2 separate regions of the Homo sapiens genome follow, and region 1 is linked to region 2. Evidence: fine-mapped expression QTL. Tissue or cell type: sun-exposed skin. Region 2 holds a variant in brackets; the other region holds the start of a gene. All regions are shown on one strand. Distances are between the middles of the regions.

The links. PIP is the estimated chance that this variant, and not a neighbour inherited with it, causes the effect.
Region 1: it holds the start of CLMN, and the variant in region 2 is fine-mapped to the expression of CLMN in sun-exposed skin (GTEx, PIP above 0.99). The same link has a PIP of 0.9 or more in breast, esophagus mucosa, gastroesophageal junction, spinal cord and thyroid.

Annotation. Positions count from the first base shown.
Region 1 is chr14:95,318,826-95,321,325 of GRCh38, forward strand. It overlaps CLMN (calmin), which reads right to left and starts at 1,083. Exons shown (of 13, transcript NM_024734.4): 1 at 886-1,083. The coding sequence starts at 967. RefSeq lists enhancers at 1-73, 94-173 and a silencer at 804-1,063.
Region 2 is chr14:95,192,005-95,194,504 of GRCh38, forward strand. CLMN (calmin) reads right to left here. Exons shown (of 13, transcript NM_024734.4): 12 at 1,845-1,915. Among named protein-coding and RNA genes, the nearest start is that of DICER1-AS1, 36 kb to the left of the region's middle. The variant A/G (reference allele first, on the strand shown) is at 1,427.

The DNA of each region.
Region 1 (2,500 bases), 130 kb after region 2:
GAACACCTGTCTGTTGGGTGGATAGGTTGTGGAGGGGAAATTATGGGTGACTTTTTTCCTTCAAATATTTTTGTGCTTTCTAAGTTTCCACATTGAATAAATTCTTTTGAAAGAGAAACACACTTCATGTGTGGCACCGCCATACCCAGCCGCTCTCCACCACTGGAGTTTCTCTTTCACCTCTTCTCAGCTACCTCCCAGGTAGAAGCCTTGGTCCCAGTGTCCTGTGCCCAGGCAGGGTCGGAGTTGGGGGCCAGCGTGGGGGAAGGGTGGGGCTCTCGCCCTCTCCCCAGTTAGAGTCCTGATCCTGCAGGGGAGGGGCAGCTCCCTAAGCAAAGTGGCCGCTGGAGTTGGGTGCTTGCCTGACCCCACCGATCCGATCCGCACCCCTGGCCCCGCTTTCCCCAACTCACCCCCTGAAGCGCCGCCCACCATTCAATTCCCCTTGCCTCGAAGGTACTTAGGAAGTGCGCGAACTCACACACACACACACACACACACACACACACACACACAGAGTCGCACTGTCTCCTCCCCTCCCTAACCTGGGCCACCGCCCCCAAGAGCCCACGTACAAACTTCTCCAAACTCGCAGCGGTGACTGGAGGGGGTGGTGACGTCCCCCTAATGAAAATGCGAGCCCTCGCCCCACAACACACACACGTGTGGCGCCCCACCCCCTGGGCAACTGTAAACCTGGCCGCGGCTGGCCGCCCTGGGGCTTGGGGGCGGGTATCCAACCCCAGCCTCCCACCTCGAGGCAAGTGACAGGAACAACGAGCGGCCGGCGAGCGGGGGCGGCGCGGGGGAGTTGCCAAGTGTCGGAGCGGCGCCCCGGGCCCCCCGAGCGCCCAGCCATCCCGGGGCGAGCCTGGGCTGCGTTACCTTGCAGGTTCTGCACTCGGATGTCGCTAATCTGCCCGATGAGCTCCTCGCGTTGGAACCAGTCCCACTCGTGTGCAGCCATGAAGCGCGGGCGGGAGAGCCCGGGCCAGCGCGGCGCGGGCGGCGGGCGCGGAGAGCCTGGCTGGCGGGCGCGCGAGCGGCACGCACCCGGCGAGGGCGCCGCGGAGCTGGAGTCGCGGCGGGCGCGGGCGGGGCGCGGGCGCGGGCGGGGCGGGGCGGGGCGGGGAGGGGCGGGCGGCGCGGTCGGGGCCGCCCCCGCCGCGGGCTGGCGCGAGCGAGCGCGGGGCGGCGGGTGCGGGGCGGCGGGCTCGCTCTCACTCCCCCGTGCGGGGGCGGGGGCCCTGAGGAGCGAGGGGCGAGGGGCGAGGGGCGGGGCGGGGCGGGGCAGGGGCGGGAGGCTGGGTCAGGCCAGCTTGTGTTTTTTTTCTTTCCGGGGTGTTTGTAGGTTGGATTGTTTGGTTACAAACCGGCTGTGATGAGGCGCGGGTCCCGGCCCCCAGATTGTGATGTCTCAGGGGGCGGTGGGCCGGGTGACGCAACTGGGGGTGGGCCCGTGGGTCCCAGTACCTGGTCCAGGAGGCAGCGTCTCCCTCCCGTCCGGGATAAGACACCCCCTCCGCGGGTCCCCTGTCCACTCTGGAGAGGCAGCCCCCACTTGGAGGGACCAGGACCCGAGCCCTGCCCATCCCCGAATCCTGGGAGCCCTGCGTGGGGAGTGTCGAGGGCCTGGGTCGGGGGGCAAACTAGTGTGGAGGTAAAGTTGTGGGAGTCTCCAAAGTGCGGGGGGGCTGTGAAAGAAGGGCCTTCTTCGTTGGTTTAGATACTAGGAGCCTTTTCCGGTCCAGTAATGTGACTCCAGCTTCTAGGAAGGAACAAGAAGCAGGCCAACTCCTAGGAGCTGGGGTACGCTGTGGGGTCTCTGGCCACTGAGTCTCCAAGTGACCCTCTGTGGGGTCACTGGAAATTAGTGAAAATGCCAGGACAGAACTTCCTGTGGAGACTACTGAAAATGCCAGGACAGGCCTTCCGGTCCCCTCCCTCCCCACCTCCACTGTTGAACTCTAGAGAATTCCAGGATCTTATCCTGTTTGGTGCCCACCATGTGGTTTACACTCCTTAAAAGTGAGACCCTACAGTTACCGAATTTGCCCAAGGTTGAGGAATGACTTAGGAGCAGGAAGTCCCAGCCCCCTGCTCCCAGCTCAGTGCTTGGGCCCTTTCTGTGACAACTAAGGCCACAAAGAAAATGGCTTTAAATATTCAGTGTTCCAAGAGGGGGAAAAAAATGGACAGGGCTCACTGGGCATTTAAACACATGGGCCTGTGTGCATCGCTGCTCTGTTCACAGCAATGAATCCCGGAAACCCGGCTGCTCACTAATTACCCAGTAACTATGGAGGTCCCCCGAAGGACAGACCTGTGCCCTTGAGGCAGGGCCCTGAAGGAGGGTGAGTCTACCCTCCAGTCATCCATTGGGGCAGGGGCTATCGTGTGGCCCTTAAACAAGGAAAGGAGATTTCTAAAGTGGACTCCAGAAAGGAGAAAGTCAATTTGGGTTAAGGAACTGTGAATGCGGGTGGAGGGCAGCAGAGGT
Region 2 (2,500 bases):
ACACTGAGGCTTTCGGGGTGGAGTGACTTGCCCAAGGCCATGCAATTAACTTGGCGACAGAGAGGGCGCCTAGGCCAGGTCTCCTGGGACACCTTTCTTGATGCCACAGTGCTCTCAGAGAGTGACACGGAGTTAGATACTGATCGCTTGCTGCTGTTTGTTAGTAACGCAGGGGACCCCATAGGTCATCTAAGGGATGAAGTGTCCCTAATAGCAGATCATTTTAAATCATCTATCAGAAAGAAACAAAGACCTCTCCCATTCCCCACAGTTTTGTTTTGGCTTTGGAATATTACCTTTAAAATAATTACTAGATTTGATTTCAGTCAGATTTACCTTCCTGCTTTTATTTTATAGGTGGTAGTGTTAAAATGTCATTTCAGTTTTGCCTGGCGGATCATAGGGAAGCCCAGAAGGTTTTGCCTGGGGCTGGGGCCTCTGCTTGGAGCTGCATGTAGAGAAGCCTGCAGTGTAAGCCTCTTAGGGTGGTTTCGTGCGGTGTAATGGAGATTACGAGAGGCTAAAACCACTTGTCCCAGAACTATCTCCTGATAGCAGGAGCGAGGGGCAGGGTGGGATTAAACATCTGCCACAGTCTACATACTGAATGATAAATACCCACATGATGGTCTTCTTTAAAAAGCTGTCCACAGAAACAAGTTAAACTATATACTTTTTATAGAGACACGGTCTCTCTGTGTTGCCCAGGCTAGTCTCAAACTCCTGGCCTCAAGCAGTCCTCCCTCCTTGGCCTCCCAAAGTGCTGGGATTACAGGCGTGAGCCACCATGCGCAGCCTAAACCATATTTTTTATTATAAAGGTAATAAATGCTCAATGTAGACAACTGAAAACACGACTGCATTTCTCAACTTTACAGGTTCTATTTTCAACGCCTCTATCTCATAAGAGCAAAAAGGATTATTTTCCTATGAGCATATCCAGCCTGGTGGAAAACTTGAATTAGTATTTCCATTTCATGGCAGGGGAAAGGAGCTGTCTTGCTTCTTTTTTAGCAGCCAGAGGGATGGGGTTCTAATGACCACACTCTTGGGTGTTGGGTAATATTCAGACAGAGGCTTCCGATTCCAGTAATCTAAATCCTTCCAAGCCAATTCAAATCTGTGGCGAGTAAATAAAATTTTTTAAAAATAAAAACATAATAAAGCAACTCTATGACTTCAACAGGAATGGGGACGTCTCAGAATTGTAAGAATTTGAGACGTTTTTCTGGTTTCCTATGTTTTAAATGGGCAGGTTTCCAGCAATTCAGCAACATTAGGCCAGGCCAACAGTTCTCCGACAGCAAGAAATACTTTCATAGACATCCTGGCATGTTTGCTTTCCCTCTTCATGTCTGCTCTGATGCCATAAAACTGTAAAATCAGCTCAGTAAGCTTCTGAGTACTGTACCTGCAGTGGCAACAG[A/G]GAATGGACAGGCGTCAGGGGCTACAGCATTCACAGGGGCCACACAGCCTCACAAGACCACCACCTCTTCTCCTGCCTGGCCGTCCCTTTGCTAACTACCCTATACCACTAAACCACCCTATACTCTATACCACTCATTTAAACACAGCTGCAGGCTCAGAACCCAGACCCGTCTTTAAACTGACTCATTTTCGGAACCGGGCCCTAACCATCAGTGTTAATTAATATCTACTTTTCCTTTCTACTCATATTCAATTTACATCATTTTCTCTGGAATAGTTATTTTCTTGCATTATCCCAAATTATTAATACTGTTATCAACAAAGCAGTGGGAGAATAACCACCCCTGTAAGGCAGGCTGCAGAATGTAAAAACATTTTATTACTACCCCCACAAAACCTGAAGTAAAGCCACCAACCTGGTTAATATTCGGTTTCTTCTGTCATCCAGATCTGCTGCGTTCCTCAACTGAACATAGCTAAAATGATCCTACAGTGAAATTTATAAACAAAAGCCCCCGCAACCCAATTAGTAAAGATGAAATCTCTGAAACAGAAGATAAAACGATTTTAAACACACAAAGCCGAGCATGCCGGGCATTTCTCAATACCGCCAGCGTCTAGATCCAAAATCAAAGTGCTAAACAATATACATTCCTCTACCTCCTCCCCTAAGCCCCTCCCTTGTGAGTGCGAGAGACCCCACCACCCGGAACCCGGATTGGGGTGTGCTGCTCCGGGTTCTAACACATCTGCTACTGAGCACGTGCCACTGTCCATCGGACCTTGACTCATGTTGCACCTCTGTCTCTGAACGTGATCCTTCTGGGTGCGCGCGGGGTCCAGGTGAGGCGTTTTGGGTGCGTTTTTATAGCAAGGAGGCCTTTGGGCTTTAAAATCCTCACTTTATTTACATCTCTTATTGCCCAAACCGGATATCCGATCGGACTGTGCTTAATGATAAGGTTCCAATCTGCTTGTCTTCTATCCAAAAGTATAGCTGTTGCATGCCAGTAATTTCAAAGCTCTGGGCTGGGGAGGAGGAAGGATGGAAAGGAATTGATTAGCAGGGGCC